Linked DNA regions of Homo sapiens. The protein of the gene in region 2 interacts with the protein of the main gene of each other region in a biochemical or structural test. Each region holds a gene or a part of one and is shown on either strand. Other genes may lie near its edges.

Region 1 (3,500 bases), on a different chromosome or scaffold from region 2:
CAGGCTGCCTCCTTGAAGCAACACAAAACATATCCACTTCCCCAAATCCTAAGGTGGGAGGGAACTTCACTGCTGATCTAGATATTTTTCAAGCTACAGCTGTGGATTAAACCAGTAATTTCTAACCTTCCTGTGTATCAAGCTTGCAACACAGTCAGACACGAGTGGAGATGTGTGCAGTATGCTGCTTGCCTTGTACCCACAGGCCCCTAAATCTCTAGAGCAGAATGTGTATCATGAGCAGTGCTGTATTTAATGTAATAGATGAGAACTGTAAATACCGGAGTCAGGCTGTTAGCAGCTACCAGCTAGGCAATATATCTAAAAATATCTCTCGTATCATTGATGTTATGGTAAATTCATGCTGTGGCCAAAGAAACCTCACAGAAGTAAGCTGAACCTACAGTATTTTAGATGGCATTGCTGGTTAACATCCAAGCAAAACAAAAAGAGGTTCCAAAACCTGTCACTTCTTAAAATAAAAGAATGGTGACACAAGAGTTAACTCTAACCAATTCTTAAAATCGTTTTCGGGTTGCCAACCTCACTATATTATTCTGTTTCAGTATGAGCTTCTTGCATCGTTTTCTTTTAAAACAAAAGCTATGAAACTACTTGTCTAAGAAAGTTAAAACATTTTTCACCTTTTATTATTGTTTGAAGAAAAAAATATAGAAAAAGTTTTCTTTGAAAAGACAAGTCCTAATATGGTTTTTAAAATAGCTAAGGGAACATAGATACCTGATGTTCATTAGCATTTTTTTCTGGCTTAAAAAAGTGCTGATTTTATAAATGGCTTCTTGAGTCAAGCCACAGATGTTTTACTCTGGTGGTGACCATACCGTTTCACTCTCTGCAAACCTCTCTCCTATAACACTCACCGCTATGAAAGGCTACGTTAAATCATAAAGGCTACTTTAGCACCTCCCACCCTCGCCCCAGGAAACTAGCCTTGAATACACAGACTCATGTTTAACAACAACTCCGGGCAGCATGCAGACATAGCAGTGCCCACAATGGCATTACACTGAAGGAGAAGCTCTTTTGAGAGAGGGTCCATTGTTGGCGCGTTCACACGCCTAACCAAGAGACTTTAGGAAGTGTTGTGTATGCAATCAAATGAGAGCTGGAGATAGGCAGGCAGGTGGAGAAACAACTATTTTTGAAGTACTTAAGAGAAGAACTGGGAGCTGCAACCACCAGGCAAATTAAGAAAAAAAGAAATCCTATGTAACCTTTACAATAAAAGGAAAGAGGTACCTTTTTGTGGAAGAGCTGGTGGCCATCAAGCCAAATCCTGTTCCGCAGTCTGCTTCTCACCCACGCAGGGCTCTGTCTGCCGTGGAGAGACCATCGCACGTGCTGGTCACAGTTCCCTCTGTGTTTCCATTCCATTCACCCCTACCCTCTGGCGCCCGCACTCCACCAGCCCACTATCCACAGTGAGTGAGAGTCGAGAGCAGAACAGCACGAGGGAGCAGCCACTGCAGGCTTTCCACAGAGCACAGCTCTGACTGTGGTTTCCGTGGGGAGACTGACAGAGAAGCCCCAAGTTACCAGGAACACCCTCTTCCAGCTCTCAGAGGTAATTCCTCTGAAGACCGAGCTCTTCCCTGATGTGTTGGGACCAGACTTACTGGTTACTATAGAGGCTGCAATTCCCTTCCCATCGAGCCCTGCTAGACACCACTGCAGTCTGAAAGCAAGGAAAGCTTTAAGAGAATGTCCTGTACCATTCCATCTTCTCACAACACAATACTCCTTACAGTAAGACTAAAATATTCCCCCCCGCCAACTTTTCCAATAATCACCACGTGGGGAGCAGAGATTATTTTAAAAGAGGTACATGGTAGGAAAATTTTCCTAGCAGAACAGCCTAATACAGCAATGCTTATCACTCTTTCTCTATCTAATAAATAAGCATTCATGCATTCTTTCTAGTTTTATAACACCTGGCTTACATTTTCTCTGCCATCTCTGATTACTTCTACAGATACCCTGAGGACTCATTATGATGTCAAAGCCAAAAACACTTCCATTGTAGAAACATGCATAGAAAAATCACTGTGTATGCTTGAACAATGCAGGTGTGAAAGAAACACAGAGAGAAGAGAGGGTGGCAAAACAGACAAACAGGGACCAAGTTAAAGAGAGAGGGGGCAGAAGAGAGAGAAAGGAAAGTGGAGAGAAAGAGAGAGAAGAGACAAGACACAAAGATATTACAAACAGAACCACATTGCATTGAAATAGCCCACTGATGGAAAAAATGGATAGCTGTTGCCTTTAAATAATCTAATATCAGAAAAAATCATGCAATAAAATACTATAAAAGTAGAATATTTGTATTATTTCATATGAGTTATGGTCACTATAGGCAATATTTTAAATATTGGGGTGGTATGTCAATTTAAAATATCTTTTTCATACCAGCAACCATGATATGTAGATATGACACTGCCCCCAACCACACACACACAAACACAAACCTACATCTATTTACTTCTTCAAGTTTGTGGTATCTTTTGTCTTCAGTTTTGTTTGGAAGAAATGCAGATCAATGTCAGGTGTTGTGTTGTGGTACAGAATACAGTATGATGAAACTTAGCTTGGTGAAAAATATGTTATTTGCAAGTTTTTGTTCAAGTTTATCCTCAGTTACTCCTTTCTAAAGAATACTACACAACTTTTCAAATAAAAAAGAAGATATTCAAAAAAAGAACTCTTAAAAACTTGAAATAGGAAAATGCATAACATCATTGCGCTCAAATTACGCTATGGAGTAATTAGATTATAAAAATTTACCAAAACTGTAGATCTCTCTTTCTGAGTCTACCATTCATTTGCCTCCTGAACAGAGTTCTGGTGAGACTTTGCATCAAGGTAGACTTCCTGGCAAAGGACAACATGCATTGGAAACACTGGTTATTGATTGAAAATTATAGCCCTGGTCTAAAAGGGACACCCAGCCAAACCAAACTGTAAGTGCAAAGCAGAGTGGTCATTATCAAAGAGCATCTGACTAGTCCCTCTAATTCCACAGAGGAGTTTTTTTTAATATAAAATATTTAAGGGTAAATAAACCTTTAAGTTGTTTGAAGTTAAAATGTATCCACTAAAATATATAACAAGTAAACAAAGTCTTTCAGATTGTATATTATGTATTTCTAAAATAATGTCTCTCCCTCAAATTAAATTGGCTTACAGGTAGAGTTGGAAATCTAGTTTATGCATGTGACTTTGAAAACATTATTTACTTGACAAAATTAATTTTTCACAGAGAAGTAATTGGCTTTTAAAAATTATAAATGTAAAGTATTTATAAAAGCAGCTGAACAAATAATCAGATTATTAACTCAATTTTTTAATTTTAAGTATAATTGTAACAAATAGAAAAACTTTACAAATCTTTGAAATTGCATAATCACTTATTTCTTTTCCCTAATCTATTAAACATTGACACAGAAAGCAGACAGAAAACATCAGACAGTGAAATAATTGGG
Region 2 (3,500 bases):
GCTCTCATGCCTCCAAAAATACACAGATGAATCTTCAATGCATATTGCTAAGTGGAAGAAGCCCACCTAAAAAAGCTACATACTGTTATGATTCCAATTACATGATATTCTGGAAAAGGCAATAGAGACAGTAAACAGATCAGTGGTTGCCAGAGATGGAAGGGTTGGAAGGGATGAGTAGTTGAGACACAGGATTTTTTTTTTCTTAAGAGCAGCGAAACTATTCTCTATATCATAATGGTGGATACATGGCATTGTGTATTTGTCGAAATTCATAGAACTTTACAGCAAACACACAAAAATCAATCTCAGGATATGAAAATGTAAATGATTCCATCCTGGGCATGCAGATTGTGACAAAAAAATCTCATTGCATTACAAATGTAGGAAACCACCTTACTAAAGGGCATGAGGGTAAAGTGTTGATCCAAGCAGCTTTGGAAATGAGTGGAATCTATAAGACAAAGGCCAAAGGAAGTGCACATAAGCACTCTAATTGATAAAGTTGGTTCCCACGTGGCAGCTGGTTAACAATTCTGATACCATTATACATGTATATTGGAATTGAATAAGTAAAAGGATGGTGGGCGGTGAAATCCAGGTTTCACACTTTTGGAGTGGGAGTTTACAGGTAAACAGGAGGAAGTTAGAATGAAACGTGGTAATGGATTCAAGTTGAAGACATCAGTATGAATTCATGGTATGCTTAATGAAGAGATAGATGGATAAATCTATACACAGATTACTATCCACATATATTCCCTTGCTGTGTCAGCTGAAAGCCTAAAAGTAGTGACACCATAGTAGCAATGAGTACACCAAGTGCCCAGAGCTTGGTTTCTAATAACATTCTCCAAGAAAAGGAAACAGGGCTCCTTGGAGAAGTGGTTCGATTCTAGGACTGGAGCAGGAAATATACACGATGAGGCCTGAGCATCTTGTATCAGAAAGTAAGGAAGTACAAGGCCAGGCGTGGTGGCTCACACCTGTAATCCTAGCACTTTGGGAGGCTGAGGCGGGCAGATTACCTGAGGTCAGGGGTTAGAGACCAGCCTGGCCAACATGGCAAAACCCCATCTCTACTAAAAATACAAAAATGAGCCGGGTGTGGTGGTGCATGCCTGTTAATCCTAGCTACTCAGGAGGCTGAGGCAGGAGAATCGCTTGAACCCAGGAGGTGAAGGCTGCAGTGAGCCAAGATTATGCCACTGCACTCCAGCCTGGGCGACAGAGTGAGATTCCATCTCAAAAAAAGAAAAAAAAAAAAAGGAAGTGTAAAAACAAACCAAAAAAAAACCACACACACGCAAGACAAAACTGCAATGATTTTCCCAGGAACCTGGTAAAACAAAAAGAGCAGGCCGGGCACGGTGGCTCATGCCTGTAATCCCAGCACTTTGGGAGGCTGAGGTGGGTGGATCACAAGGTCAGGAGTTCAAGACCAGCCTGGCCAATATGGTGAAACCCCGTCTCTACTAAAAATACAAAAATTAGCCAGGTGTGGTGGTGGGTGCCTGTACTTCCAGCTACTTGGGAGGCTGAGGCAGAAGAATCGCTTCAACCTGGGAGGCTGAGGTTGCAGTGAGCCAAGATAGCGCCACTGCACTCCAGCCTGGGCGACAGAGTGAGACTCCGTCTCAAAAAGAAAAAAAAAAAAAAAGAAAGAAAAAAAGTTCCCAGTGGCCAAAGTTGCAATGATCTGAACCACAAAATAAAGTATTGCATTATAGCTCAAGAGATAAAATAAATACCCAGGAGTCTACATCTTTAAATAAATAAATGATTAAATAAATAAGGGAGAACAGCCTTATCTCTGGCACAGAATTCCAGATAATTTATGGCAATACTCCATCCACTCTCTACTCCTTAAGTGTGGGCTATTCATAGTAACTTCCTTTGAAGAAATACAGCACGGAAAGGGGAAAAAATAGTAACTTTACAGTGGAGAAACCAGACAAACACTCTCTGAGTCAGAAGATCAAGCTGACATCCACAGTTAAAAGTCATAAGAGTTTACATCCCTGGTATGTGATAAGAATGCACTTTACCTCTGATCTCCCTCTCAAAAACCCATAAGCCCAATTTAATCATGAGAAAAACTAAGAAAATCTGAATAAAATGTGGACTTGAGTTAATAGTTATATATCAATATTGGTTCATTGAATGTGACAAATGTGCCATATTAATGCAAGATGTTAGTAGGAGAATTAGTAGGAAATTCAGTGTGGGGTATATGGGAACTCTCTGTACTGCCTTCACAATTTCTGTAAATCTAAAACTATCCTAGCCAGGTACAATGGTGTGCACCTGTAGTCCCAGCTACTCGGGAGGCTGAGGTGGAGAATCACTTGAGTCCAGCCTGGGCAACATAACAAGACCCTGTCCCTTTAAAAAAAATAAAATAAAATAAAAATTATTCTAAAATAAAACATCTATTAAAGAAAATGAGGGTGACTATCTATATACATTATATACATTTCCATAGAAAACAGCTGTGCAAACTAGGCACAAAAGCAGATACAACATTCTACCTGGTTCTAGACTTTATCTGTACATATGGTACAACTAAGCTATTTTGATTTTTCCACTTCAAATATTTGATATTAAGCTATCCTTACGTCAAGACAAAACCCACTCTACTATGATGAAAGGTACATTGCTATGGAGGACAGGTATAAAGGAAACACAATTAGCCTGGACAATAAATGAACACTTACAGTAGCAGTTCTCTGCTCATCAAACTTTGAAAGTTTCTGAAGTTCTCTATAAACTGTTCCAAGTGGTGCATATTCCAGAATTAGGTAGACTCTGGTAGCATCATGGAAATAACCATACAGTCTAAGAATATTAGGATGCCTGCAACAAAGGATAAACATTCTAACACTTGGTTTGGAGCTCACAGAAGACTATGTACAAAATGTCAAACAAACTCTTCATGTAAAACCAGTGGTGTTTCACATGAAACCACACTCCAAACCCCACTTTAGAATCTGAAACTATAAACCCACTCCAAGAAAAATACATACACCCACATATCATTTTAAAAGCACTTCACAGTATTAATGGACCTCTGGTTTAGTTAAGACTATTTCCTTCCTTTAGGCACCTTTATTCTTAGGAGGAAAATTCAGCTGAATATTAATTATCTACATATTAAAAAAAGGACATGGCCGGGCACAGTGGCTCACGCCTGTAATCCCAGCACTTTGGGAGGCCGAGGCGGGAGGATCGCGAGGTCAGGAGTTCAAGACCAGCCTGGCCAACATGGTGAAACCTCGTCTCTACTAAAAATACAAAAATTAGCTAGGCTTGTTGGTGCATGCCTGCAATCCTAGCTACTCAGGAGGCTGAGGCAGGAGAATCGCTTTAACCTGGGAGGCAGAGGTTGCAGTGAGCTGAGATTGCGCCACTGCACTCCAGTCTGGGCAACAGAGCGAGACTCCATCTCAAAAAAAAAAAGGAAAAAAAAAAAGGACATGGCATTGCCACAGTAGTTTGAC

What was found. Proteins that work in one complex are often made in the same cells at the same time.
Region 1: the proteins of AURKA (region 2) and MYT1L form a complex in vitro, tested with the Homo sapiens proteins (one study listed by BioGRID).

Annotation. Positions count from the first base shown.
Region 1 is NC_000002.12:2,324,776-2,328,275, forward strand, and holds part of MYT1L (myelin transcription factor 1-like protein), read right to left. Parts: intron 2,334-3,500; exon of another isoform or gene 1-2,333. UniProt on the Homo sapiens protein: Transcription factor that plays a key role in neuronal differentiation by specifically repressing expression of non-neuronal genes during neuron differentiation.
Region 2 is NC_000020.11:56,378,716-56,382,215, forward strand, and holds part of AURKA (aurora kinase A), read right to left. Parts: intron 2,857-3,500; coding exon 2,718-2,856; intron 1-2,717. UniProt on the Homo sapiens protein: Mitotic serine/threonine kinase that contributes to the regulation of cell cycle progression.